Linked DNA regions of Homo sapiens: region 1 is linked to region 2. Evidence: fine-mapped expression QTL. A gene starts in region 2. The other region holds a variant in brackets. All regions are shown on one strand. Distances are between the middles of the regions.

The links.
Region 1: its variant is fine-mapped to the expression of BMPR1A in whole blood (TOPMed, PIP 0.93).

The regions. Positions count from the first base shown.
Region 1 is chr10:86,921,551-86,936,643 of GRCh38, forward strand. It overlaps BMPR1A (bone morphogenetic protein receptor type 1A), which reads left to right. Exons shown (of 13, transcript NM_004329.3): 11 at 1-145; 12 at 1,826-1,956; 13 at 2,044-6,419. The coding sequence ends at 2,169. It overlaps MMRN2 (multimerin 2), which reads right to left. Exons shown (of 7, transcript NM_024756.3): 7 at 13,990-15,093. Among named protein-coding and RNA genes, the nearest start is that of MMRN2, 29 kb to the right of the region's middle. The variant T/C (reference allele first, on the strand shown) is at 3,666.
Region 2 is chr10:86,745,116-86,761,285 of GRCh38, forward strand. It overlaps BMPR1A (bone morphogenetic protein receptor type 1A), which reads left to right and starts at 11,504. Exons shown (of 13, transcript NM_004329.3): 1 at 11,504-11,804. RefSeq lists a silencer at 11,017-11,986.

The sequences.
Region 1 (15,093 bases), 180 kb after region 2:
ACCAGGGTGGGCACCAAACGCTACATGGCTCCCGAAGTGCTGGACGAAAGCCTGAACAAAAACCACTTCCAGCCCTACATCATGGCTGACATCTACAGCTTCGGCCTAATCATTTGGGAGATGGCTCGTCGTTGTATCACAGGAGGTGGGAGTTTGAGTAGTTTCTGATTATGTTGATTTACTCATCATTTTAAAAATAACAGCTCCAGTTATATAACTTTTTAGTTTTTAATTTTTGTGGGCACATAGTAGGTGTATATATTATTGGATAAGGAGTTATTTTGATACAGGCATGCCATGTGTAATAATCACATCTTGGAGAATTGGATATCTGTCCCTTCAGACATTTATCCTTTGTTTCACCAACCAGTTATACTCCTTGAGTTATTTTTAAGTGTACAATTAAATTATTACTAACTGTAGTCCTCCCCGTTGTGCTATAAAATACCAAATACTTATTCATTCTTCTATTTTGTCTCTACTTATTAAACATCCCCCCCCATCTGCTGCTACCCTTCCCAACCTCTGGTAACCATCCTTCTGTTCTCCATGAGTTCAGTTGTTTTGATTTTTAGATCTCACAAGTAAGTGAGAACATGTGAAGTTTGTCTTTCTGTGCCTGGCTTATTTTACTTAACGTTATGACATCCAGTTCCTCCATGTTATTTCAGAAGGCAGAATCTCATTCTTTTTTCTGGCTGAATGATACTCCATTGTGTGTAGGTGCCACATTTTCTTGATGTGTTCATCTGTTGATGGTCACTTAGGTTGCTTCCACATCTTGGCTATTGTGAACAGTGCTGCAGCAAACATGAGGGTGCAGGTATCTCTTCGGTTAGCTGATTTCCTTTCTTTTGGGTATACACCTAGGAGTGCAATTGCTGGCAGTTACGTAATTTAGATGTCACATACGTCAGAGTCCCCAAGACCACCCCCAGGTTGTGCGATTTCACTTGAAGGACCACAGGACTCGGCATGTGGTTGTCCCAATGGCTAACATTTATCCCAGTGAAAGGATACAAATCAAAATCAGCCAAGTTTAGAAAACCAGGCGAGGCTTCCCAGAATCCTGTCCCAGCGGAGTCAGGGCGTGTGCTTCATTCCTCTTACTAGTTGTGACAACACATACAAAGTGTTCTCATTCGGGAAAGCTCCTTAGAGACTTGGCACCCAGAGATTTTACTGGAGGCTGGTCACATAGGCATCCTCTGCCTGGCATGTACCAGAATTCCAGCAGGAAAGCAGACGTGCAGTACACACCACATTGTTTGCACAAGCAGCCCAGGAGTGGTGAGTTACCCTCACCGTTTCCGGTAAGTTTTATATCCATGTAGGGAACTGTTTACCATTTGTGTACCCGGGCACTGGCCAAGGCCAAACCTTGCAAGCCGCCTTTCCTAAGGGAAGGTCTCAGGCCTGCTGTGTGAACCCTTATCTGCACCTCATAAGTCTTTCTACTGCAGAGCAAAATGAAACAAAATAATAAAAACTATTCATTAGTAGGAACAACCATATAAGTAAATAATTATACTTTAGGGTAAATGGCTGATTTCGCCTTGCTTATTTTTTTTAAGGAAGATTGATATGCCCTTTGTCGATGGACTCTATCACAGTTGTGATGACATCCCTGGTGGAGGTAGAGGAAATAGTTGGACATAAATAAGAGAAAAACATACATCTACTATTAAGAGTGAATCATAGTGTCTATATTTTTTCTTGTGTAAGAATCCGTTTTAGTTCCATAGTTTAGCAAAAGATGCTTACTAGATTGGTATATCTTGTCCAGCAACCATTTTTGTGCCCATGTTTTCTCATTCCCTTATAGGGATCGTGGAAGAATACCAATTGCCATATTACAACATGGTACCGAGTGATCCGTCATACGAAGATATGCGTGAGGTTGTGTGTGTCAAACGTTTGCGGCCAATTGTGTCTAATCGGTGGAACAGTGATGAAGTGAGTGGAACTCAGTCCCCTGAAGAAGTGATTCGTAAATGCCACCAAATATATTCTCTGCTCACTGAACATCTCTTTACTTTTCAGTGTCTACGAGCAGTTTTGAAGCTAATGTCAGAATGCTGGGCCCACAATCCAGCCTCCAGACTCACAGCATTGAGAATTAAGAAGACGCTTGCCAAGATGGTTGAATCCCAAGATGTAAAAATCTGATGGTTAAACCATCGGAGGAGAAACTCTAGACTGCAAGAACTGTTTTTACCCATGGCATGGGTGGAATTAGAGTGGAATAAGGATGTTAACTTGGTTCTCAGACTCTTTCTTCACTACGTGTTCACAGGCTGCTAATATTAAACCTTTCAGTACTCTTATTAGGATACAAGCTGGGAACTTCTAAACACTTCATTCTTTATATATGGACAGCTTTATTTTAAATGTGGTTTTTGATGCCTTTTTTTAAGTGGGTTTTTATGAACTGCATCAAGACTTCAATCCTGATTAGTGTCTCCAGTCAAGCTCTGGGTACTGAATTGCCTGTTCATAAAACGGTGCTTTCTGTGAAAGCCTTAAGAAGATAAATGAGCGCAGCAGAGATGGAGAAATAGACTTTGCCTTTTACCTGAGACTTTCAGTTCGTTTGTATTCTACCTTTGTAAAACAGCCTATAGATGATGATGTGTTTGGGATACTGCTTATTTTATGATAGTTTGTCCTGTGTCCTTAGTGATGTGTGTGTGTCTCCATGCACATGCACGCCGGGATTCCTCTGCTGCCATTTGAATTAGAAGAAAATAATTTATATGCATGCACAGGAAGATATTGGTGGCCGGTGGTTTTGTGCTTTAAAAATGCAATATCTGACCAAGATTCGCCAATCTCATACAAGCCATTTACTTTGCAAGTGAGATAGCTTCCCCACCAGCTTTATTTTTTAACATGAAAGCTGATGCCAAGGCCAAAAGAAGTTTAAAGCATCTGTAAATTTGGACTGTTTTCCTTCAACCACCATTTTTTTTGTGGTTATTATTTTTGTCACGGAAAGCATCCTCTCCAAAGTTGGAGCTTCTATTGCCATGAACCATGCTTACAAAGAAAGCACTTCTTATTGAAGTGAATTCCTGCATTTGATAGCAATGTAAGTGCCTATAACCATGTTCTATATTCTTTATTCTCAGTAACTTTTAAAAGGGAAGTTATTTATATTTTGTGTATAATGTGCTTTATTTGCAAATCACCCACTCCTTTACAACCATACTTTATATATGTACATACATTCATACTGTAGAAACCAGCTCATGTGTACCTCATATCCCATCCTTAAGAGAAGAAATGTTATAAAGTAGAACTAAATATAAATTTTCAGAATTAATGCATTCAAAGTAATATATCAAATCCAGGACTTTGTTAACTTCAGGTAAAAACTTCATTAGGGTAATATCATCTCAATTTTTTCAAATGAAAGGATTCTCTAATTAGAAATTTATATGTCAGAGCTGTTATAAATTTATCAACTGTCAAATATGTTCTGGACAGCTAAATCATTTGAGATTTTTGGTTTTTTGATTTCTATTCCCTAACTTGTGAAGACAATGAAAAATCAGGCAGAAATATTTAGTATCTAGTCAGTATCTGTAGCTACACTGTATAACTGTTCTTCAATAAAATGGTTCATATTTTATAGATGCCTTGTTATCTCAAGAAATCTGATT[T/C]ACATAAACTTATACTTCTTTAATGCTTTTTAAATATTTATTCTGAGCAAACAATTCATGAGTACATCAAGTGAGATAGTTTTATTTGATTATAACATAAAATAAATGTGATTATATCACATCATCATCAAAAAGGTTTAAATTAAATGGGAGGAAATCAGCATATGTCCACCCATTACCAAAATTTGACTATCATTTAAGGTTAAAACTTACAAATTTGTCTGCACATCAAATTTCACAAATTTGAAAATTGCCTTAACCATTTTGATTAATAAGTTTCATCTGCCATAATTAAAGTCTGAAGTGTTCATCAAGATAAGTAAATTTGCATATGGATAATACCCAATAACTTGTTTTTTCAGAATTTTTCACCATATGTATACTGAGAAATACAAATATTTTAATCTGCGTTGCCGTATGATATGATTGCACTTAGAACACCCAATTTACTTAAATCTTGGTTTACTTTTGACTTGATACCATAATCTTTAAAATCATTTGTCATCTTTTTTTTTTTTTTTTTGAGACGGAGTCTCGCTCTGTCGCCCAGGCTGGACTGCGGACTGCAGTGGCGCAATCTCGGCTCACTGCAAGCTCCGCTTCCCGGGTTCACGCCATTCTCCTGCCTCAGCCTCCCGAGTAGCTGGGACTACAGGCGCCCGCCACCGCGCCCGGCTAATTTTTTGTATTTTTAGTAGAGACGGGGTTTCACCTTGTTAGCCAGGATGGTCTCAATCTCCTGACCTCATGATCCACCTGCCTCGGCCTCCCAAAGTTCATTTGTCATCTTAATAAAAATATAAAGACAGGCAAAGTTTATTGGAAATGTTCAAATGGTGTGTGGAAGCAAAAAATTACAGCCAGTATATGAGACCACTATTATGGTTTTTTAAAATTAACTTGGTCTAGTAAAAGTGATATCAAGAGTTAATCTTAGAAACTTGCTCAGTAAAAACATTTTCTAGTATAACATGTTCTTTAAAAAGCAAATGCTGCCGTCTTTGGAATCTTAATCTAAAAATGTGGCCGGGCGCGGTGGCTCACGCCTGTAATCCCAACACTTTGGGAGGCTGAGGCGGGTGGATCACAAGGTCAGGAGTTCAAGACCAGCCTGGCCAACATGGTGAAACCCCATCTCTACTAAAAATAAAAAACTCAGCCAGGCGTGGTGGCGGGTGCCTGTAATCCCAGCTACTCGGGAGGCTGAAGCAGGAGAATTGCTTAAAATCAGAAGGTGGAGGTTGCAGTGAGCTGAGATCGTGTCACTGCACTCCAGCCTGGGCAAAAGAGCGAAACTCCATCTCAAATAAACAAACAAATAAATAACAAAAAACAAAAATGTTGCATTAAACTTAGTTCTTGTCTCTCCTTTCCACTCTTATTCTTAAATCTGAAGCTCATCGACTAAGTGAAATATTTAAAGAATATGATAGGCCAGCAAGAAGAAGTATTATGTAGTACCATAGTTAGTAAATTCGTAAAACCTTGGAAGCCATTATTTGGTCCCACTTGCAATTTAGTGTTTTTGAAGTGTGTAGCTTCATTCAGATAGCTCTTTAAATAATTAAAATATAAAAGCAAACAACCCAAACTACCTGACTATAAACAGGAAAAGTTAACCCTCAAAGAGAGTTCTTGTGAATTCTCTTTATGCTGGCAAATAGCTCTAGGATTAAAGGCACATTAGGGTTTCCTTCAGTTTGTTTATTCTAAGCTTTTACTGTGCTTTTTACTGAACAAGTTTCTGATGTATAAAACTTGCATCTGATTTCTTTGGAAATATTTTCACAAAAGTTATTTTAATCAGTATTTTTACATTGCCTTTCCAGTGTCCAGAAGTGTTTCTAAACTTAGAAAGTGACCTATAGTTTTTTAAAATTATGTTTTCCTAGAACGTGCCAAATTTTGATTTACTCTAACAATCAGTACTTTTCTTCAGATGCTTTGTTCTGTTTAGAACAAAAATGCACTATAGTTTTTAAAGAATCATGCATCTTTGGGTTGGCCCAGGATCAAATTTGATATTGAATAATTTATTCCAGGGCAGCTTTCATAAACATACTTCATAGATGTTGTTTTGAAATGTTTCTAAATATCTAAAATCATTTCAACAGCAGAAATGATTTTTATTTTAACAAAAGATTATGATAGCCCTTGTAGTGTTTAAAAGTGGTCATATTTATTACTGACTTTGAGTCAGGTGTTAAAATAGCAGTGCCACAGCTCGTCTCTTGCCTTAGTGTGCTGCTGTGAGAGTCACAGTGGAAACTGCAGGGAGGAGGTGTGTTCCTAAGAACCAAAATCCAGCACAGCATCCTGTGAAGCCACGTGTAATGATGGTCCCATAAGGAAAGTATGTGAATATGGCTCTTGTAAAGGATTAACTATTGTAATTTTAGCTTATGCTCTGTATTCTGTTTTCTATGGAATTATTTAAGCCCTTTTAGTGACCTTTGTCCTGGCCCATTTAAAAACTAAAATGTAGTATATATTGTATAAAATGGAAATATCATTATTGCTTCATTAGGGGAAACTGTACATAGGCATTGAAAGAAGGGTAAAAGCAAGCAGTTTTATCAGGCAGTTGTAAAACACCAAAAATATAGATTCGTCTTTGACGTGTAACACACTAAATGTATTTTGTACAGCATCTGGTTTAAAAGGTGCCTTAAGAGTTTACCATTACTTGCTTTGTTCTATATACAGATTATGTCCAATGTATCATTTTGAAGTAAATAACCTTATTTTAGTATACTTTAGTGATGTGTTTTGTGATGCTACACTCAGACGGTATTGTGCATCAGAAGTCATCTGTTGAGATTTTTGTAATGATTAAGTTAGTGTATATACATATGTTCCTGAGATGTACACTTCAACTACCAGAAACCCAGTATGGAGCACAGGTAGGTACACGCTTGCCCTGTGGAGATAGAGAACTTCTAAACCTATCACGGTGCAGGGGTTTTTCCTTTAAAAAACAAGACAAAACATTGTTTTCTTTTTCCTTTTTTTTTTTTTTTTTTTGAGACGGAGTTTTGCTCTTGTTGCCCAGGCTGGAGTGCAATGGCACGATCTCAGCTCACTGCAACCTTTGCCTCCTGGGTTCAAGCAATTCTCCTGCCTCAGCCTCCCGAATAGCTGGAACTACAGGTGTTTGCCACCATGCCTGGCTAATTTTTTGTATTTTTAATAGAGACAGGGTTTCACCATGTTGGCCAGGCTGGTCTCGAACTCCTGACCTCAGGTGGCCCACTTGCCTTGGCCTCCCAAAGTGCTGAGCTTACAGGCATGAGCCACCATGCCTGGCCAAAACATTGTTTTCTGATTATGGAAATGTACTCATGGCAGAAAATTTGGGAAACAACAGCAAATAATAAAGCAAATAAAAATCACTCAAAATTCTATTGCCAGACATTATCACTATATACATTTGAGTGTTTCTTTTCAATCTTTTTTTTTGAGAGAGTCTTGCTCTGTCACTCAGGGTGGAGTGCAGTAGCGCGATCTCGGCTCAGTGCAACCTCTGCCCCCTGGGTTCAAGTGATTCTCCTGCCTCAGCCTCCCAAGTAGCCGGGATTACAGGTGTGCACCACCACGCCCGGCTAATTTTTGTATTTTAGTAGAGATGCGGTTTCACCATGTTGGCCCAGGCTGGTCTCGAACTCCTGACCTCAAGTGATCTGCCTACCTCAGCCTCCCAAAGTGCTGGGATTACAGGAGTGAGCCACTGCACCCGGCCTTATTCTTTTTTATGTTGCATTTTTTGTAATATTAGGATCCTAGTATGCCATTAAATAGCCATTGAGAACTTTTTTTTTAATGACTGCACAATATTTGACTAAGAAGATGGAGTAATTTCTGTGCTCAATCCCCTATTGAATATTTGGATTATTTTCATTGTTTTGAAAAATAGATATTAAGCATCCTTATACATAAATCTTTATTTTCTTATATTACATTTCTGAAAATGAGACTAGTGGATATGAACTTTTAAAAGATCCTTTAAGATGGAAAAACTAAGGTTCTTGGAAAACATTGCCATATTGCTACTCACAAAGCTTTTCATTTTCATTCCTGCTAGCAGTTCATGAGCTTAGAGCGATGGGATGCATTTACCTGGCCTTAAGATGCTCCTGCTGCAATGGGAAGTGAAGCCTTGGATAGCTTTCCTCCTCCTGTGCAATACTTTCTTGTCATTTTCCCACCTGCACTGAGTCCCACCGCCAGTCAGGGCTGTTTTCAGGTGTATGTGAATTCATCCCAGCAGTGTGCCTTCTGCTGCCTTTTCCTAGGGAACTGAACATGTTAAATCACAGACGCGATGTGGCACTGATTATTGTTCCTCAAAAGAAATGCGTGTCTGAAGATAGCCTCTTACAGATTCCTCACGGGAGTCTCTGTTCAGTGTCATTGTAAGTTTCTCAGAATAATCGCAGGCGCTCTGATGCAGCCTGGTAAAGAAGACTCAGTGATTTCTGGGAACTGCAAATGCTTGCCAGCTTTCCTTCTGTCTGTGGAAACACTGAATAAATGTATTCATTTCTCCTTTCCAGCAATCTGTTAGTCTCACTGCTCCATTCCAAGGTTTCTTTAATATTATTAACAGAGCAGACATTAAGAAACAGAATTGTCTAATCCTTGTTCTTCCAAAATAGGTTTAATCCTTGTAGATAGTTTCAAGCAGACAGTAAGTCAGTTACTAAGTTTTCACTTGGAGAAACATTTGCTGATAGTAGTAGCATATTGACCATTTCTGACATGTCATCCTTATATCAAGTTAGGTGCACGCTCCTACACAGCCTTGGCTCAGCGCTTGGAGCATACAGTCTTGACTGGGTGGACATAAACCGCTGAAAGTGGCCAGCAGTGAGCAGAGGCCACCTACTATCAGCGGCACTGCTGCAGGCATGGAGACTTAAATGTGTGAGTGCTGGTATAAGCAGAAGTGGGAGAGTCACCTCGATGCTGGGATCCAGATGGCGGCTTATTTCAAGTGCAGTGGCACATACAAAAAATATTTTTGGAAGGGAGCAAGGACTAGGGCTGAAAGGTTCATTCATAATCTTTTTTTCTTTTTTTTTTTAGGTGGAGTCTCGCTCTGTCACCCAGGCTGGAGCGCAATGGGGTGATCCCAGCTCACTGCAACCTCCACCTCCCGGGTTAAAGCAATTCTCCTGCCTCAGCCACCTGAGAAGTTGGGATTACAGGCGTGCACCACCACACTCAGCTAATTTTGTATTTTTAGTAGAGACGGGGTTTACCATGTGGGCCAGGCTGGTCTCGAACTCCCAACCTCAGGTGATCTGCCCACCTTGGCCTTCCAGAGTGCTGGGATTATAGGCGTGAGCCACTGCGCCCAGCCCATAATCTCCTTTTGACATAGGAATTGTTAATTCACATATTCCATCAACCTATTGCTCCTCTGAATCTTAGCAGCTTCTTGGTCTTTGTTCAAATGAAATCTAAGTCAATTCCATATCTCTCAATGTCGCTACATCCACCTCAGTGCTTATATCCTAATTTTGTCTTTTTTAGAGACAGTCTTGCACTGTCACCCAGGCTAGTGTGCAGTGGCTGTTCACAGGCATAATCATAACGCACTGTAGCCTCAAACTCCTGATCTCAAGCCATCCTCCCACCTCAGCCTCCTGAGTAGCTGGGACCATGCCACCATGCCTGGCTCACATTCTAAACATTATGCAGGAAGCTCAAAGTGAAAATCAATATGGAATGTTTATATTGAAAATATTTTTGGCTGGGTGCAGTGGCTAATGCCTCTAATCCCAGCACTCTGGGAGGCTGAGGCGGGCAGACCACCTGAGGTCAGGAGCAGCCTGGCCAACATATAGTGAAACCCTGTCTCTAAGGTACAAAAATTAGCTGGGTGTGGTGGTACTCGCCTGTAGTCCCAGCTCCTTGGGAAGCTGAGGCAGGAGAATCACTTGAACCCAGGAGGCGGAGGTTGCAGTGAGCTGAGATCGCACCACTGCATTCCAGGCTGGGCAACAGAGCAAGACTCCGTCTCTCAAAAAAAAAAAAAGAAAAAAAAATATATATATATATATACACACACACACACACACATATATATATATATATTCAAGCAATGTGAAGAAAATATTGGGCCCCCTTGTTTTTCTTTAATGGAAGAGCCATTTTTAAAAGCCAGTTTAGAATCCAGATGATGACATCTGTTGCTCTACTGTATGACTGAAATGCAGGTCAGTGTTGAAAAACATAAAAAATTGGAAGTCTCCACTGAAAGACCTACACTGCTGTGGGAGGGATTTTAATCAAGACATTTCAAAAGCAATTTTTATTACTTGATCCTGTCCTCATACTTGGCTAGGAGTTCAGCTGGAGATAGAATCTAACTCTGAAGATGATACTCCATGATCTTCTAGCATCCCTTGTCACCAGTGAGAAGTCTGATGTGGATCTAATAAGTGACATGTTATACAGGTTAACTTATTTTCAAGAAATAGAATTTTCTTTTTATTATTGATGTTGGAAGTTGAAACTGGCCATATCTAAATATATTCATTCTGTTTCTTAGTACTAATGGGATCTTTTCTTAGACCTGGGAAATTTTCTCCCATTATTTCTTTTGTTTCTTCCCTTTTTTCTTTCTTTTCCTTTTCTCTTTCTAGAACTTTCTAGAACAAATCTCAGGTCCCCTAGATGTTTCTTCCATAATTGTTACTATGCTTCTCATATGTTTCATCCTACCTTCTACTTTTGTCAGCCCATCTGAGTTTATTTCAACAGCCAAATGTTTTATTTTGAAATGATTCCAGGCTTCCATTAAAGTTTCATCAATAGTATAAGGACTGCCATTTACCCTTCACCCAGATTCATAAACTGCTAACATTGCACAATTGCTTTGTCATTCTGTGTGTGTGTGTACAGGAATCACAGAGACTCATCTTGTAATGTTTGTAATGTCCATGTATCGTGTATGCACACATTTTTTTCTGACCTATTAGAAGCAAATTACAGAGCTAATACCCCTTTATCCCTAAATACTTCAGGGATGTTCTATTACTTAACCAATTATGTACAATTATCAGAACCAGGAAAGTTCACATTGATACAATAGCAATGACCAACAATACCATAATCTATAGACCTTACTGAAGTTTTGCTAATTGTTATTTTGGTGTGGTTGGGTTTTTTGTTTGTTTGAGATAGGGTCTCACTCTGTCACCCAGGCTGGAGTACAGTGGCACAGTCATAGCTCACTTCAACCTCAAACTTTGGGCCTCAAGCGATCCTCCCGCCTCAGCCTCCCAAAGGGCTATGATTACAGGCATGAGCCACCATGCTGGCCTCATTTCCCCTTTCCTTCTCAAAAGGATTCTGGCTTTCCCTACTGCATTCATCCACGTCCACTACCCGCTCCAAGAGAGCTGAGTAATTGTCAAGCCAGGTTTGGGGAGCTTTCTTGATGGAGGGGATGGAAGGAGGGTGGTGCTCAGGCTACAGCAGGGAGAGCTTTTCTGTTTTTGAGCTAAAGACATAACAGGGTGCAGAGGCTGAGAAAAGGAGAGTTCTAAGCAACATGTCACGAGCTATGTAGCCTCTTCACACTGCTTCTGAAATAAAATCTAACAGTAGGAGTGACTTTGACATTATGTTGTGGTTTCTGCAGACAACTTGGGATTGGCCCCTGTGGGTTTGTTAAGGGCATGTTTGTCAGAGTATGGGGGCTCCCTGCTTCCAGAGGCCCAGCAGCTGCTGTGTACCTGGGGTTCAGGGCTGACGGCAGGGCTGGAGTTCTGGCACACAGTGACCCCAAGTGTGTTTATTTTTTTCCTTGTGGTGATGGTTGAACTGTTTTAGGGTTGGTTTTTGTTATTGTTTTTTTTCAACTTTTATTTTAGATTCAGGGGCTACATGTACAGATCTGTTACCTAGGTATGTTGTGTGATGCTAAGGTTTGTGGTATGATTGATGCCATCACCCACATACTGAACATAGTACCCAACAGTTAGTTTTTCAACCCTTGCCTCCCCAACATGTCTCAAGGGCTGGGTTTGAGTTTGGGGCTCCGCCCAAATCACTCCCATCTCCCCAGCAGTCTCACATGTTTGGGGTCATGATTTCCTGTTGCTGTTTCATTTCAGACCTGATCCCTTCTATTTTTCAGGAATTACTAAAATGTCCTGATGTACTTATGGTACCGTCTCTTGTTTTCCAATTGGAGATTTTTTTTTTTTTTTTTGAGATGGAGTTTCATTCACTCTTGTTGCGCAGGCTGGAGTGCAACGGCTCGATCTCAGCTCATTGCAACTTCTGCATCCCAGGTTCAAGTGATTCTCCTGCCTCAGCCTCCCGAGTAGTGGGGATTACAAGCACCCGCCACCACGCCTGGCTAATTTTTATATTTTTAGTAGAGATGGGGTTTCATCACATTGGCCAGGCTGGTCTTGAACTCGTGACCTCAGGTGATCCACCCGCCTCGGCCTCCCAAAGTGCTGAGATTACAGGCATGAGCCACCAATTTGGGGATTTTAAAATATTTTTTCCACATCAGGTTTGCAGGTACCACCGTGTGCTCCGTCCATTGTGGTGTTTTGGGTGCCACAGTGAGGGTGCTGACCGCTGGTCTGGGTAACGGGGGGTCTGCTTGCAGGACAGGAGGAGCCTCCACCCAGGTGGAGACAGGAAGTCTATCAGATGAACTTCAGAAGTCTTGCTAATCTGGGGGGGGGGTCCTAATTTTAGGACCGTTTAAACAGAAAATTTGCCCTTAAACTTGATGTTAAGGTTTTGTGAAATGCAGTCATATATGTTTTGTTGCATGGAAAACACCCTGTCCAGAAGAACCATTTCTCTAGTTCTCATCCCAGAAACTTCTGGAGTGACACATCCATGCTGTTGGCAGAGCTTGCCCGTTAGCACTTTCATGTATAATCTTCCTCTCAAAGAGGACCAACTGTATGAGGGTTGGATGACATGTACCCCTTCCAGAAGGGATCAATTCACTTCATTTACTATGGGCAGTAACTTCCAAAGGATAAGACTGCATTACCTAATGTCTCAACTGTTAACAGCAGAGCCTGACCAGTCACTGCATGATTGAGCAGAAAGAAGACACAGCACAGTCTGCAGCAGCAAGGCTCACCTGCTACTGGGCTTCTAATCTTTGTTCTGGCGTGGCCGTCTGCTTCATGCCTTGGGGCAGAATTGGTCTTGGTAACTGAGAGCTGCACCGGGGGTGGGTGATACTTAAACCTGTGGTTAAGATAATAAAATGCCAGAGGCCAGGCGTGGTGGCCCACACCTGTAATCCCAGCACTTTGGGAGGCTGAGGTGGGAGGATCATTTGAGGTCAGGAATTCAAGACCAGCCTGGCCAACATGGTGAAACCCTGTCTCTACTAAAAATACAAAAATTAGGCGGGCATAGTGGTGGGTGCCTCTAATCCCAGTTACTCGAGAGGCTGAGGCAGGAGAATTGCTTGAGCCTGGGAGGCAGAGGTTGCAGTGAGCTGAGATTGCGCCACTGCACTCCAGCGTGGGTGACAGAGCAAGACTCCGTCTCAAAAAAGAATGCCAGAATACCTAATTAGAGCTGTAAGATCAACCACCTCACACTAAAGACAAAGTTCAAGAGAGGTTGTGATTTACCCCAGGTCAAACATGAGCAGTGTGGCCTGGCATACTGTTCCTTTTAACACCGATGTTTTAGCACATTGAGTGCACAAAACTTAGTGCTAAATAAATTCTGAGGAACAAGTGAAGTAATAACTCCTAGCAAACAATGAGAAGTGCTGATAACCTTGTTAACGCCAACAAGCAACTCACTACGAAGTCCAGTCTGATTTTTTTTTTTTTTTTTTTTTGAGACAGAGTCTCGCTCTGTCTCCCAGGCTGGGGTGCAGTGTCACCATCTCAGCTCACTGCAACCTCCGCCTCCCGGGTTCAACCGATTCTCCTGCCTCAGCAATCTGATTTTCTTATAGAGAAGACTATATTCAACAAATTTTGAGTACTTAATACCAAAAAAAACCTTGTTTCTGATAGCTAGATGACTGTTTTCTCAGGCCAGTTTGCTATAGGATCTGAACTTTTTTGAAAACCATATGCTGGTATATTACAGGAATAATTGCAGCTATGAGCTGTACTGTCTAGTCCAGTATTAGTATCTTTGCCTAGTGTGGAAACTTCCAAGTGTTTTATATAGAATAAACGGAAATCATTCTACATAACAGGGCCTGGAATAATCAGTCACATTTACCCACATAGTTTCACGTTGTCCCATGTTTTTTTTACCTACTCTACCAATTATTTTTGCCCTCCAGAAGTAAATGAGGCAGAGATTTGAAGGGCATCACTTTATTCCAAAGTTGATCATTAGTGAGGGGGATTTTTACAGTCTTCTTTCCCTCCTCCCTCAGCTGCCTCCTGGTTAGAGATGCTAACAAGAATTACGATGGTCCTAAGATACTGGAGGAAGTAAAAAAGTTGAAGGCCCTACATATTTTAGTTCACGTTTGGCATTTCTTGGTCTTTACCCTATGTAAGGCAAGGAGAAAAAGACATGAAATTTAAATTACAGATAAACACAAGTGTATTAGTCCATTTTCACACTGCTATCAAGAATTGCCCAAGACTGGATAATTTATAAAGGAAAGAGGTTTAATTGACTCACTGTTCCACATGGCTGGGGAGGCCTCAGGAAACTTACAATCATGGCAGACAGTGAAGAGGAACCAAGGCATCTTCACAAGGTGGCAGGAAGGAGAATGAACACAGGAGGAACTATCAAACTTATAAAATCATCAGATCTCGTGAGAACTATCACAAGAACAGCATGGGGGAACCGCCCCCAAGATCCAATTACCTCCACCTGATCTCTCCCTTGATGTGGGGATTATAGGGATTACAATTCAAGATGATATTTTAGGTGGGGGCACAGCTAAACCATATCCTACAAGGAATGACTGAAACTAAAGATACTAATTTCCTTTCCCTTGGTTGGCCAGGCTGTCGTCTTCATTACTGACTAATAGAGACCAAGCAGGTTGGTTTAATCCCATTGCCCTCTAGTGCTTTCCAATGTTGGCCAAAATGTTGCCTCCATTTTAAACATTCCTCCTGGGGAAGAATGTCTTTCTATCATACGATAAGGGAGAAGAGAAGAGGAAGCAAGAGAAAAGTTTAAAGTGTTGTACAGAAGTTTCCAACCACAGGAGGAGCAAAACACCAAAGAAGTTGTAGAATACAGGGTGTGGTGAAGAGTTGGAGCCCAGGCCGTGCTGTCTGAGAAGGCATGCCAAGCCAAGGTTCAGGCTTCCTAGGACCATGTCCTGCCCGGAGAAGCATTCCAGTCCTTCTCATCATGGAGAAATGGCCAAGCCCCATGTGGTTACAGGGAAGCCACGTACACCACACCATCTTTGCAGAAGGTTTCCAGGGAAGAG
Region 2 (16,170 bases):
AGTGACCATAGTCCTACTACTGGGAGACAACCGCTACTTAGCATTTTGGCTAGTTTCTACCATTAAAAAAATTGTTTTTTTTGTTTTTGTTTTTGTTTTTTTTTGAGAGGGAGTCTCGCTCTGTCGCCCAGGCTGGAGTGCAGTGGTGCAGTCTTGGCTCACTGCAACCTCTGCCTCCCAGGTTCAAGCAATTCTCCTGCCTCCCGAGTAGCTGGGACTGCAGGTGCATGCCACCATGCCCAGCTAATTTTTATATTTTTAGTAGAGAGGGGGTTGCACCATGTTGGCCAGGATGGTCTCGATCTCCTGACCTCGTGATCCACCTGCCTCGGCCTCCCAAAGTGCTGGGATTACAGGCGTGAGGCACCATGCCCAGACAAAAAATTTGTTTTTTTAAAAGAATCGGCCGGATGCAGTGGCTCACGTCTGTAATCTCAGTACTTTGGGAGGCTGAGACAGGTGGATCACCTGAGATCAGGAGTCGAGACCAGCCTGGCCAACATGGCGAAACCCCATCTCTACTAAAAATACAAAATTAGCTGGGCGTGGTGGTGTGTGCCTATAATCCTTGCTACTCGGGAGGCTGAGGCAGGAGAATCGCTTGAACCCTGGAGACAGAGGTTGCAGTGAGCCAAGGTCGGGACACTGCACTCCAGCCTGGGTGACAGTGAGACTCCATCTCAAAAAACAAACAAAAAAATCGTAGTAAGAACACTTAATATAAACGGCAACTTTATATCCATTGAATAGCAACCCCGATTTCTGGTGCTCTGCATGTTTAGAGAAACTTCTCTAGTAGCAAACTACAGAAAAGATCCCTGAATGTGTGGGCTTTCTACCATTTATTTTTAACAGCGAGAACAAAGGCATCAATTCAGCCAATGGTTTCAGAACCTGTTCTTCTTTTTTTTTTTTCTCACTCCATCATCCAGACTGGAGTGCAGTGGTGCCAACATGGCTCACTGCAGCCTCCACCTCTCTGGCTCCAGCGATCCTCCCACCTCAGCCTCCTCAGTAGTTGGGACTACAGGTGTGTGCCACCATGCCTGGCTAATTTTTAGTATTTTTTGTAGAGAAGGGGTCCGCCTATGTTGCGCAGGCTTGTCTCAAACTCCTGGGCTCAAGCAATCCTCCCTCCTTAGCCTCCTGAATAGCTGGGACTACAGGTGTGTGCCACCATGCCCAGCTAATTTTTGGTATTTTTTGTAAAGAAGGGGTCTCCCTATGTCACCTAGGCTGGTCTCAAACTCCTGGCTCAAGCAATCCGCCTGCCTTAGCTTCCCAAAATGCTGGGATTACAGGTGTGAGCCACCATGCCCAGCCCATTTTCTTTTTTAAGGTGGCATTTTTTTTAGTTTTAATTTTTGTGGATATATATATATATATATTTTAAATGGGGTACATATTTTGATACAGGCATGCAGTTATAATAATCACATCACGGAAGCTGGGATATCCACCCCACAAGCATTTATCCTTTGTGTTACAAACAATCCAATTCTACTCTTTTGGTTGTTTAGATGCTTCATTTTCTTTGTTCCTTTTTTTTTTTTTGAGACAGAATCTCACTCTGTTGCCCAGGCTGGAGTGCAGTGGCGCGATCTTGGCTCACTGCAACCTCTGCCTCCTGGGTTCAAGAGATTCTCTTGCCTCAGCCTCTCAAGTAGCTGGGATTACAGGCGTGCGTCACCATGCCCAGCCAATTTTTATATTTTTAGTAGAGACGGGGTTTCACCATGTCGGCCAGGTTGGTCTTGAACTCCTGACCTCAGGTGATCTGCCCACCTTGGCCTCCCAAAGCGTTGGGATTACAGGCGTGAGCCACTGCACTTAGCTGAGATGCTGCATTTTCAATGCCAACCCCTCAATCCCTGCCCATTGTGTGCACTGAGACCATCAAGTGATTTTTTTATATATCCTTCATGTAGACCTGCACTGGCTAGTACATACAATAGCTGCTTGGCATGTGTGACTGTGTAAATTCTAAATTAGTTAAAAATAAATAAAAATCAAAATTCAGTTTCTCTGTTTAGCCATATCAAATGCTCAATAACCACATGAGATTAGGGGCTACTGTGTTGGAACAGGGAAGATACAGGACATTTTCATTTTCACTGAAAGTTCTATTAGACAGTGCTGGTGTAGATTCTGACCTGCTCAGCTCAGCCTTAAGAACAAAGTCTTGAGCCTAGCACGGTGGCTCACGCCTGTAATCCCAGCATTTTGGGAGGCTGAGGTGGGAGGATCACTTAAACCCAGGATTCGAGATCAGACTGGGCAATACAGGGAGGCCCTGTCTCTACAAAAATACAAAAAAATCAGCTGAATGTGGCAGTATGCACCTGTAGTCCCAGCTACCTGGGAGACTGAGGTGGGAGGATTGCTTGAGCCCAGGAGGTTGAGGCTGCAGTGAGCTGTGATCACACCACTGCACTCCAGCCTGGGTGACAGACAGCAAGACTCTGTCTTTAAAAAAAAAAAAAAAAAAAAAAAAAAAAAAAAAAAAAAAAGATAGCATTTTTTACCTCAAATAATGACAGAACGCAGAATATTTCTCAGCAATAAGAAAAGCCACCCCAAGAAGCAGCAAAGAGATGGGCTCACAGTCTCTGAAAAGGAAGTCAGTCATTAGCCACCTTCTGACATCCTAGCAATTAGCTGGTCTTGGGAGAAGAGCAGGTATCTCCAGAGAGGTGCCAAATAAATAGGATAAGAGACTATAAAAATGAAAAGCCTTTTGGCCTTTCATCACAGGATAATCCAATGCATGCGAATTAATGGTGAAAGGCTCAGTAATAGCCTTTGTGAGGAAATAGGAGCAGTGTAGCAGGATATCCTTTTTCCGCACTAAAGCACCCAATTCTTTCAATTTTATATACAGCGGAAGCAATTAATTGTACTAGAAAGAAATCCACAGCTGGCTTTTCCTGATGGCCTCATAAGCAACAAGCACTATTGTTCAGTTTCCGGGACAGATGTAAAGTCATTCTATTGCACTGCTGAGATTTTTCTGAATGTTTAGTTTGACTTCTCCAAAGATAACTTATGTGTTAACATCTAAAATTTGATTCGTCTTGTCATCACACATTTTCAGTATAAGCAACTGTCAAAAAGTTAATTTTTATTGTGCTATTGCACTCCAGCCTGGGCAACAAGAGTGAAACTCCATCTCAAAAAAAAAAAAAAAGTTAATTTTTGATTTGTAATATAATCCAGCACGTGACTTGATGCTGGTATTTTTTCCAAACGTTATGTGACTGAATCATGTTATTCACTTTTGTTTGTTTTACATGTTTACATGCAGTTGAACTGCACTGCCTCTGCTTTTGTGGTATCATCCACAGTGTGGCTATTCAGGAATCAGGCATAACAAGATTATACATCAAAAACTCAGAAATTTAACATTTCAAATGCTGGCCTGTATGGCATTGCTTCACCTTCTAGATGCATTAAAATACACCATATTTCATTAATTCTCAGATGCACATTTTTTTTGACATTTGAAACTTTCTGGAATTGCGATATCTTAATTAACGTGTCAGGGTTTAACTGGCAAGGTTTTTCTTCCTTAGTTGTACATAAAATAATGATGGATCTTATAATCAACAGTATCCATGCTGTTCTTTGGGTGGAAAAAACCCACAACGAAACAGTACCCTAGTTTTGATGACATATGGTATACATAGTTAAAATCTCATGAGTATGATGTGTTATTGCAAGTGTAACAACAGAACAACTCTTTATTTATTTTTTCTGAGACATGGTCTCCCTCTGTTGCCCAGGTTGGAGTGCAGTGGCATGATCACAGCTCACTGCAACCTCTGCCTTCTGGGCTTAAGGGGTCCTCTTGCCTCAGCCTCCCGAGTAGCTGGGATGACAGGCAAGTGCTACCATGCCTGGCTAATTTTTGTAATTTTTATAGAGATGGGGTTTTGCCATGTTGCCCCGGCTGGTCTGGAACTCCTGGACTCAAGCGATCTGCCTGCCTTGGCCTCCCAAAGTGCTAGGATTACAGGGGTGAGCCACTGTGCCTGGCCTAGAATAACTCTTTTTACCAAGAAAAATATTCACGTCAATCAAATAAATAAAAACTTTAATTACATATCTTATATGGGATTCTAACTGACTTCATTCTGACAAATATACAATTTGCCACTTTCATTTTTCTCTCTATCAATCAACCAGTTCTTTTAAATAATATCTACTCTTTTTTTTTTTTGGTGCTGAAACCCACAGTCGAAAATATCTACTTTTCTGATTATAAAAGTAACATTGGGCCGGGTACAGTGGCTCACGCCTGTAATCTCAGCACTTTGAGAGGCCAAGGCGGGCGGATCATGAGGTCAGGAGTTCAAGATCAGCCTGGCCAACATGGTGAAACCCCGTCTCTACTAAAAATACAAAAATTAGCTGGGTGTGGTGGCGCACACCTGTAGTCCCAGCTACTCAGGAGGCTGAGGCAGGAGAATCACTTGAACTCGGGAGGCAGAGGTTGCAGTGAGCCAAGATCATATCATTGCACTCCAGCCTGGGCGACAGAGCAGACTCTCAAAAAAAAAAAAAAAAAAAAAAAAGTAACGTATAACATTGTCCATTGTGGGGGAGATAAAGCTTATGGAAGAAAATAATAACCATCCATTAGGCCACCACAGAACACTGCCAACGTTTTCTCTTTATTTCAGGATAATCTATTTCTTTATAAACACACATATTTAATAATACAAAATTAACAAATGCTTAAATATATCTTGTCAAATGTCCTGAAAGGTATATAATGTTACACAATAAAAAAGCGGGTTCTTTAAGCAAGCCAGGGACCAGCCTCCCCATTGCCACTGGAGTAGAATTTTCTGGTGTTCGACAGGATCACGTGCAGATGTTGCAATGCATAATTCCAGGGAGCACCATTCGTGTCAGGCAGGTTGCGAATGGCACCCCCTTAAAGTTGTGCAACCTAGCAACCCTGGTGCTCAGTACCGTGACCATAGCGACAGTGGTACATACGCAGGGGAGATAGACAGGAGGGAGGATGCAACAGCACAGCAGATGCATCAAGGAGTTTGCAACTACCCACCAACCTTCAAAACAATGGATTCGCAGAAGCAAGGATTCAATAACTGGTAAGCTCCAGTGGCCTGGGACTGCTTTTTTGATACTACGTGTATTTTGGTACTCCCTAAACTGTCTCCCTCAGGCTGAGAGGCCCCTATTTATGTTGAAGAACAAAGGTATGAAAACTTATTTGTGAGAAAGACATAAGAACAGCTAAGCTATGTGGAAAGTCAGTGATGTAGACCATTGAGAGAAAAGCCTAAGGAGATGAGGATGGAGTAGTCAAAGATGACTTCTTGGAAGAGGTGGTACTCAGGCAGTATAGGGAGGAGAATGGCATTAAATGGAGAATGAATATGGTCCATTCTTCAGAAAGTAGTGAGACCAGTCTAACGAAATGTTACTCTATAGCAGTGTTTTCAGATTTAATGGGACTGGTGTTTCACAATAGAAATCTAAACAACTGGGCAACATTAGTTGAAAGAGGGAATGACCAATTAGGAGGAGAGCTAGCAGCATTCAGGATCGGAGGAAGAGGGGCTTTAAGGTAGGTAGCAAACTAAATGGAAACTAATCTGCATTTTAAAATAAACACTGACAAGTATTGGTTACTGGTTATATATATGACTATGTATGCCTTTGAAATAATAAAGGAAGTTGTTTTAAAGTTTATTTATTGAGAACAAGTTGTTAGATGATAGTTCTGTTATTATGATGTACAGGATTTGTTAGTAGACTCTCATTCCAACAAGATAAGTGCTTTATCATTAATCCTCAAAAATATGGAAAAACAAAACAAAACAAAACACCTAACCCTGCCTTGGCTAATAGAAATAAAAAGAAATGCGCCAGGGCAAACTACCAGTAGAGAACAAAATTAAGTATGTCATTCATTTAATAAATACTTACTGACTACCTACTGGTGTGCCAAGCAGCACACTGGATACAATGGAGTGAGAATGAGACAGTTCCCATTCTCTGAACTTTTGAGTCCAGCACAGGGTCAGGTACTTTCAACATATCCGATGGGTAAACTAGTATGCCTGGTCACACTGGTGACACCACACCACATCTAGGAATACATCCCAATTACCATGTAAGCCATGGACAGTAGGCACAGTATGGTGTTCATGAATCTGCACTCCTGATCCAGATTTTATCTCCCCAGTTATCTCAGCTTGAATCTTTTATCATCGCACCTTGCCTTCCTTTTACTAGTCATTCCCAAGGTAATCATATTCAGCTCCACATGCTGGATTTCTGGACTACTAGCTCCAAAGGAATTCTTGAGTAGAATCAGTGTTTAGGGATACTAAGAAGAATCAGACATGGGTCTTTTCATTTTTGAATGTATGTATGGGTTTTTTGTGTGTATACACACAAACATATGTACATGCATACGTACATATATGTACATATGTGTACATGCATACTTACATATGCACACATATGCACGCATACACATGTGCACATATGCGTGCGCACATGCACATGTGCGCACATACGCATATATGCACGTGTGCACATACGCATATGCGCACGTGTGCGCACATACGCATATGCGCACATATGTGTGCACACATACGCATATGCGCACATATGTGTGCACACATACGCATATGCGCACATATGTGTGCACACATATGCATATTTGTGTGTACATATATACATATATGCATATACTTACATATGTACACAAACACCTACACACACACACAAAGTTCAGACTAGAAATCTATTTGAATTATATTCAATAGATTATATACACACACACCCCTATTACACTTGGATTAATTTTTAGCCAGAAAAAAATATATATATAGCTTTTTTTTTTTTGAAACAGAGTGTCGCTCTGTTGCCCGGGCTGGAGTGCAATGGCGAGATCTGGGCTCACTGCGACAAGCGATTCTCCTGCCTCAGCCTCCCAAGTAGCTGGGACTACAGGTGCCTGCTGCCACATCCAGCTAATTTTTGTATTTTTAGTAGACACAGGGTTTCACCATGTTGGCCAGGCTGGTCTTGAACTCCTGACCTCAAATGATCCACCCACCTTGGCCTCCCAAAGTGCTTGGGATTACTAGCATAAGCCACCACGCCCAGCCAAAATTACATATAATACACCTTTAATATGTACTTAGTGTATGTCCAGAGCATATATATTATATATAGTTTTCATCTGGTTAAAAAATAATCCAAGTGCAATAAACCAGGTGCTGTGAGGATAGGGAAAAGCAGGGCAGTGAGCTGCAGCAGGACAGGGAAGGCCAAGATCTACTGTGGGCTGCGTGGGAGTTGGGGTAGGGAGGCCCCAGCTCCCGGTGCTCGGTGGGAGGAACCATAGTCCTCTAGGCAGTGCCTGATAGCCAGAGAGTAGTGAGCAAACAACAGGTGGTAGTCCAGGAGCGCAGTGGGGATGGGGACATCCAGCCTGAGGTAATGGGGGAAGGGAGGCCCAACAGATAGATAGAATACAGATACAGGGAGCCTAGAAACAAAGAGCTGGAGGCAATTAAGTGATGCCACCAACAATACCTACAACTGCCCAGCAGTCTGGGTGCAGGGATGCAGCTAAGTCCAAACAACAAGCAGAGAAATTCCAGGTCCTGGCAAGCTAACAGGTCAGGGTTTCAGACACAAGAGAAGGGCTGTCAGTTCTTAGAAAGGGGCGAGGCAGTGGGAGGCTGAGTCTTGAGCTTGGGACCAAAGCTCTGATAATTCTTCCTGCCTCAAGGCCTAGGAAAGATCAGGTTCTATGGTAAAGGGTGTACGGATAGTAGGGAAAGGAGGAATACAGAGGCCACGGACTAGGTAGGACCAAGTGAGAGCAGCAATATCCTCCATCATCTATCTTTCAATCATAGTAGCCAGTGCTTTGAGGCAAAGATAAATTAAAATGGAGCTAAGGGAGAAGGAGCAAGTTGTTTAGAAGTAAACAAAAGAAGTAAAACACTGTACCACCACAATGAAAATGAATTCAGGTTTTTAAACTTCCTCTATTTTGTGCACTGAATTATATACATCCATCTTATTCTTAACCACAGTTTCTGTTTCAGTTTAGTCCTTCTAAGCCATGATGGGGTACTACTAACCAAAAAAAAAAAAAAAAAAAAAAAAGATGTAGTAGTGTCCATGCTGAAAAATGAAGCTGTTTATTCTCCCTAACACCTACCCATTTAATATTGGGTTTGAAGCCAACCTAAAGGGTCACCCTACCAATGGCATTCCTTCACTCGTGCCTCCTTACTGGCCTCTAACTTATCATCAGACCCAGAGACTTCGTGCTGCCTTTTGCCTTATAAGATCTTTACAACATGAAAATGACTTTGAATGGATTAGCTTGGATTAATCTATTCACCTTGGATCCCTGAAGGCAGAAGTCCCATTTCACTGAAGAGGATGTGATCCACAGCTTTCCCAGCCAACCTTCACTCTTTCCAAGATAGCCATGCCACCCTCTAACACTAAAAGGGTCTTGGTGACAAGGTTTAGAAATGCCTAGAGGATATGTATGCTTATTTCTCTTCTCTCATTTAACAAATATTCACTTGCCAGGCACTAGGCTCTGAGGAGAGAGTTGAGAATAGATTGACAAAGTCAAGCTGGCCTGTAGTCCCAGCTACTTGGGCGGCTGAGGGGGGAGGATCACGTGAGCCCAGGAGTTCCAGGTTACAGTGAACTATGACTATGCCGCTGCACTCCAGCCTGGGTGACAAAGTGAGAACCTGTCTCTAAAAAAAGAGAGACTGACAAAGTCTTTTGCTCATGGAGTTTATATTCTAGTGGAGCAGAGGGGCTCAGACCACAAACAAATAACTAAATGCACGATGTAATTAATGAATGCTGCTTTGGGCATGTAACAACTACCTCTCTTGTGACCTACCTGGACAGAAGAAAAGACCATTTCCAGCCTATTCTAGTAACCCACTTAAAGGAATACCAACACATTACGGAATGTTAACTGTGGATCCCGAGATGTTGCTTTTGAGTTTGGGGGCCAGAACACACGTGTCCAGATGTCTCCCTGGGCAGACAGACCGGAGAAACGGGCTGGCATGCATAAACATGCCAGTAGCCAGGGAGAACAGCATGCCCCACTAGCTGCTGGTAGCCAGGGCGCTGAGGATTGAAGCCTGGGTACTAGCTGGGCCTTATCAAAGGAGAGCGAAAAATTCCTGAAGATTTGAAAAGGAGAGTCTTTTGCAGAGAAGCAAACATATCACGACTTAAAATTTGATGCTTCAATTTTGCTCTCATTTCTACAGTGGCAGATAACACAAGCCAGGGAATACTCATTTGTACATTTCAGAAACTTGATGTACTAAGGTTCCCACCTGAGATTGTTGTCTATTTTATAGACCAATTCATATGTCTAAAAATCCAACTAGACTATAAAGAGCATAATAACACGCTTGCCATGGTTTTCTCTGCCGACACATTGCTCAGCATACGTCAATGAGAGCTTTGACCAATCAATGTGAATCTCCTTAAGCAAAAGGCCCATCTTTTCCTTTAGAACTAAAGCTGGGGCTGGGCGCAGTGGCTCACGCTTGTAATCCCAGCACTTTGGGAGGCCGAGGCGGGAGGATCACGAGGTCAGGAGATCGAGAACACCTATTAACACGGTGACACCCCGTCTGTACTAAAAATACAAAAAGTTAGCCGGGCGTGGTGGCGGGCGCCTGTAGTCCCAGCTGCTCAGGAGGCTGAGGCAGGAGAATGGCGTGAACCCAGGAGGCGGAGCTTGCAGTGAGCCGAGATGGCGCCACTGCACTTCAGCCTGGGCGACAGAGCGAGACTCCGTCTCAAAAAAAAAAGAACAAAAAAACCCCAAAAAACAAAAAAACTAAAACTGGGTATTATGAAGGAAACTTGAGAAAGAAAAGTGACCAATTTTAGTTGATGCAAGTAATCTCACGTATCCTCTTCTTCCTGCATAGCAAGATACTACAACCCATGACTGTCAAACCTGAGACAGCTGAAGAGCCCAGAAAAAAAGATTAGGGAAGAAAACAGAATTGAAAAATAATTCAGAATGACAGAGGCTATCTGCAGCATTAAGGGCAAAGGCGGGTAAAAGAAGAAAAGGGAGACAGAATAAAAGATAAACCAAAAAATTGAAACAAAATACACGGGAATTCAAACATTTATACCAGAATATAAGGGAATACCCTGGAATCTAAACACCTCTTCAGGCAAGAATGTGTGTCAATACAAATGCCTGGCACATTGTTTTCCTTCCCCCTTTCTTTTTACCCAGTTTACCCAGTTTTAAAAGTGATTTTTTAAAATGCACCTTTAAAAGAACATCTTTTGTTAAGTGACTTAAACTTGATACATTTCTTGGATTACTAAGGAGGTTAAAGTCACATTTGGTGAAAAAGGGGCCTATCTCCTCTTTCCTCACATACGGGTCATCGAATACTTTTAAAAGCATTTTCCACCATGAATGAGGGGAAATGGAAGAAAAGAGGTGGTGACAATTATTTGCATTTTCCAAATGGACGGAATGAGCCTCCGGAGGGTACACGAGGTCACCAGCGTGAGCCCGCGGTGGAGCTGGAGGCGTATTTATAGCTGGCTGACCTCAGTCCTGTTGGGCCCTCGCCGCTCCTTATCTTATGCCGCTGGAATTCGCGGGCTCGCAGGTCACAGGAGCCCGGGCGCGCCGGGCCTGGCGCTCCCGAATCGATGAGGGAAGCCGCTCTCCCCGGCAGATCCTCCCGGCCGGGGAGCCTCCATCACCCTGCCTGCGCCTCGGCACGCTGGCAAGGAGCCCGGGAAGAGACGCCGGGAGCGGTGGGTGGGCGAGAAACAAATGCAATGTGACTTATATTTTTCTTTGTCGCAACTACCACGACCTGGCCATCCCCCACCTTGGTGACTTGGTGCCTTCCCAGCGACCTTATTTCACGCCAGCTGACTGGCGTTCACCGCAGTGTGAGTGTCGGCCGGAGGAGGGGTCCACGCGAAAGAGCCCGCGAGAGTGGGGATATCCGGCCCCGAAGGCCGGAGCGGGCGTCCAGGGCGCCGATGGCCGCAGCGCCCGGCAGCCGTGTCCACGCTCCCCTCCGCCGCGTTCCATCGCGTGCTACCTACGGCGTCTGCGGGAAGCTACCCGGGCGGCAGCTGTGGGGCTGGCTTGTGGGGAGGGGCCGGCGGGCCCGCGCGGAGGAGCAGCCCCGACTCCCGCCCGCACCAGCAGCTCGGCGCCCCCTTGCCGGCGGCTGGCCCTCCTCCCCGGCAACTGGGCGCCGGGCTCCGCGAACTCTTCGGGCGCTTCCGCCGTGCGCTCGGCTCTTTTCGTGTCCGGGGCGGGGCGGGGCAGGCGCCCGTGGTCGGGTGCGCGCGGCGCGGGCGGGGGCCTTCCCAGTGCGCGCGCGCCGTGCAAGGCCCGCGGACGCCCGCCCCTCCCCCAGGCCCCCGCACCCGCGCCGCCCCCTCCCCTCCTGGCAAGAGTCGGCGGCGGTGGCGGCGGCCGCTGCAGAGATTGGAATCCGCCTGCCGGGCTTGGCGAAGGAGAAGGGAGGAGGCAGGAGCGAGGAGGGAGGAGGGCCAAGGGCGGGCAGGAAGGCTTAGGCTCGGCGCGTCCGTCCGCGCGCGGCGAAGATCGCACGGCCCGATCGAGGGGCGACCGGGTCGGGGCCGCTGCACGCCAAGGGCGAAGGCCGATTCGGGCCCCACTTCGCCCCGGCGGCTCGCCGCGCCCACCCGCTCCGCGCCGAGGGCTGGAGGATGCGTTCCCTGGGGTCCGGGTGAGTTGGGAGTGCGCGTGCGGACCGGAGGGGCTGGCCGCAGCGGGGAGGCCAGAGGGGCTCGGGCGAGGCTGCAGAGGCAGCTGGGCGCGCGGTGGCCGGAGCCAGGGGCTGCCCGGCCCGGCCCCGGCAGCTCCGCAGGCCTCGGCGCGCGCTGGGCCGGGACCGCCCAGCCAGAGACCCACGGCACCCCGCGCCGCGTCCCCCGCCGGCCCCTCTTTTGTCTCCCACTCGCGGGTTGCAGGCCGAGTTTGGGGATGCGGAGTGGGCGAAAGTCGCTCCGGGGACGCTTCTGGAATCCTTAAATGGGAAAGGCGCTCACCTCCCCGCCCCGGAGCGGCGAGGCTGATATTTGTGATTTGGCTCCGGACGCTGTGGGGAGGAACAGGGGAGAACAAAATGAGTTTCGGGCGGGGGTCGAGTGAGAGGAGCAGCCGGCCCGCCCCCGAGTCCCCGCGGGAAGGGGCCCTGGCCCCCGAGCTCCCGGAGCTGCTTCACCTGTTGTCCTGCGCGGCCTCCGCTCCGTGGCCTGGTGATTCCGTACTTCAGTTTTGGAAAACTTTCTGCTGGATTGCCTGGACCCTTTTTTCTCTTTCCAGACTCCTAGTGGAAAGATTTGGCAAGGAAAAAAAAATGAGCTTGCGTCAGGGAAGAAAAATAATATGCTGTGTGTTAGGGTCTGGCGTTTGAGCGTGGTACTCTTTCATGCTCTCAGATGTTTTAATTTGGTCAAACTCCTGCAGGTTTTCTCTTTTAAGCGGTTAACAAACTGTTCAGAGTACATAGTATGAACTTGGCACCTGTGTTACGTCATTTAATCCTTACAACGATTCTGGTTTATTGTATTCCTCATTGTTTTAGGGGAAGAAACCGAGTCGCAAAGAGGTTAACTAACTTGTCTAAGGGAGCTGGGATTTGAACCCAGGAACATCGTATTCTGGCAAACGAATTAGGAAGAAAAAAAACCAAAACTGTTTGCAAACACTTTTACGTTTAGGAACATTTTTCAGTTACTCTTACTTGAAATTATCGCTATTTTGTTGCTGGAGTTGAAAACAACTACTTTATTGTATTTACTTGTGAGAGGAGTTAAACTTTGAATTAGAGTGTAACTTAATGCGTCTCATTGTTTTCAGTTGTTGAAATAAAGAATGTGAACCAGAATTATTTAGATTTTTAAATTTGAAGCTAAAATATGGGCAATTCTCTGATCTAGGAATGGGGTGAGTGTATGAAAGGCCGATTGAAATGTAGAATGCGTTTTTAGTAGAACCAGACTCAGTTCTTGTTTAATTTTTCCTCCATTTTCCGTGGAGCCCACTTTAAACTTTTTCTACTTTCTTCACTTCTCCCCACCCTTTACAGAAGAGGTTGAGGCACTTAGCAGGAGCTCCTTCATTAAATTCCTTCTGTTACTGGCTTCTTAACCTTCCGTCAAAGAGGGAGAATTTTTTTTTTTTTTTTTGTCTTTCTTATTAGTTAACACCTTGGGGTTTTTTTCCTTTCCTTCTAATTTTCCTGCTTAGTGGAGCGTGAGTTATTTTCTCTGTCGTATTTGGGTTCTTTAAAGTACAAATGTTCTTAAGATTTTTTCAGTTTACAAAAACCTTTTCTTAAGTCTGCTACTCCTTCAAGCTGTCTTGTTGCTGCTTTTCCTTTTCAAATCTTATTAACATTTTAAAAAGCTTGTTCGTAATAAAAGTAACACATGGTTGTTAATTGCGAACTAGCGCAACATTGAAATTAAAATTTAGTCATTCACAATCCATCTCTAGAGATTGCCAAGTGTAGTCTGCTTTTCCTGCCTTTGCCTGGTTGGTGGCTAGCCACTCATTTCTTAACCCCTTGTTATCTGGATTTCACCTTCACAAGGAACTATAACCTAATCAACACATTTAACTACCTTTTTCTAAGTCCTCTCCTTGAGTTTTCTGTAAGATTTAACATCGACTTCACATTTTCAGATGCCTCTCCTTGGGTTTCATTCATCTATACTCGCTGTATTCTAACACAGGGTCCAAGGCAGTAAGATACAACAGATCCTTCCCTCATGGAGCTTAAAGTCTAGTGGGGAAATACTTATTGAAAAATAAAGTCTCTAGTTAAATATAATTGTGATTTTAATTAAGGTGCAGAATATTATAAGAACTTCAAATGGAGACCTGATCTGGTGCTTGTGGTGGTGGGAGAATCTGGGAAAGATACCTTAAAATTGCTTTGTTGGAACCCAGGCAGATTGTGAAGGATGAGCAAGAGTTAACTATTAACTAGATGAAGAGGGGCCTTTTGTGACATTATACTGACTTTGTTCCTCTCCGCCACTTTTCTGCCTTCTGTTTCTTCTTTCCTCTTTAATATGCGTTCTCCAAGTTTCACTTTTCAGATCACTTTTCTCTATGTCTCTAGTCCCTTAGAATGATTGTTCAGACCTTTCTGTTGGAATAATTCTCAATTCTTTGTTTATGTGTCTTCTGAATCACGTTTTTTTGTTTGTTTGTTTTGTTTTTTCTTTTTTATTCAGTTGCTTTCTACATATCTGTACCTGATTGTTCTGAGCTGCTTTTCCTTAGCAAACTTGCCTCTTTGGTGTTCTTTATTTTTGTTGATGTCATACCAAACCCAAACCTTTTCCCATTTCATCATATCTTGTCTGTAGCCAACATCTGTTGATTCTGCTTTATGATATTGTAACTCTTCTGCTCTCTATTCTTGCTAACTGTGGGGCAATTCTGAATTCATATTGGTGTGAAGGTAGTAGTCAAATCATAAAACGAGTTGGGCAGCTTTCCTTCTTTTTCTCTTTTTCAGGATCATTTTAGACTGGGATTATCTGTTCCTTGAAAGTTTGGAAGACCTCCCCTATGTGACCATTTAGGCCTAGATCTTTTTTCTGGAGAGGACTTTGAGTAACACTTCAATTTCTTTAATAGCTGTTGGTTTGTGTCGATTTTCTGATTCTCATATGAATTTTAATGTTTCACATTTTTTTCAGGAATTTATTTTCAAATCTAGTGTTATTTGGCTTTCACGTAGTTCTCCCCCCACCACCCCGCGACTCCACCCCCACCCCCTAACTCTAAATCAAGTTCTCATCCCACCTGGACTAATGTTATGATTTTCTTGCCTTCACTTTTCTCCTTTATCTAATCTTATGTATTTCTGCCTAAATTAATCTGTAAGCCCAGTTCTTACCACTTCGCCACTCAGAAGTTTCCTAGGTCTTCCATTAAATGAAATATTTTCTGTGGTATTTGCCTCAGATTTACCTGTTTTTTTTTTTTTTTTTTTTTAATACCTTATTGTTTTTTCTTTCTTTCTTTCTTTCTTTCTTTTTTTTTTTTTTTTTTTTTTTGATACAGAGTCTCGCACTGTCGCCTGGGCTGGAGTGCAATGGCGTGAGCTCAGCTCATTGCAACCTCTGCCTCCTGGGTTCAAGGGATTCTCCTGCCTCAGCCTCCCAGGTAGCTGGGACCACGCCTGGCTAATTTTTGTATTTTTAGTAGAGGTGGGGTTTTGCCATGTTGGCCAGGCTGGTCTTAAACTCCTGACCTCAGTTGATCCGCTCGCCTCAGCCTCCCTGTGCTGGGGTTACACAGGTGAGGCACTGTGGCTGGCCTTTATAGCAGTTTTTATACAAATATTAGTTTCACTACTAGTTTGCAGGGTGGGTCTGTAACGGACTTTTCTTGCATATTAAAAGGAATAAATGGGGAAAGGCTCCTGTCTAGCCTAACAGTAGCTGTTGAACTGTCCTGATCTGACTATTGGATCTTAGGAGCAGCGAACCATGGAGAGAAAGGAAAATGGGTTTCCTATCACACTAAATTTTGAAGTAGGAACCATTTCTTTTCCTTTTCTACTTTCCCACCTTTTACTAGTTTTTAGGCTTTAGGATGTCTTTTTAACATCACAAGGTCCATATTGACCAAGTTGGACCAACTTTTTAACACAAGATTAAATGTTGACTTGCATTGAGTTATGTCCATTGTAAGATACACAGTAGTGTTACAGACCACTTAAAATATGCTTCTAGTTGTAAGAAGCCATTGATTGTAAGGTGCACCCCAATTCCGGAGATGCTAAAATATGAAAAATGGATGCATCTTAGAATTGATGAATAGTGTTTCTCTCCCTAATCAAAGCTCTTGGATGTGCCTGGAAATCCCCAGTAGTGTTTTTTGAAAAGAACACTAGTTAGGGGCATAGGGAGATCAGATGATCAGTAGACTCCATCTCAGGGTGGCCCCTGTGGTCCCTAAGCCAGTTCGTATGGGCAGTTTAATATATAACTAATGAGTAGACATTGAATAGATGAGTAAATTATCTTTGAGTATCTTTTATTTACTCTGATGTTGTAGACTTTGTT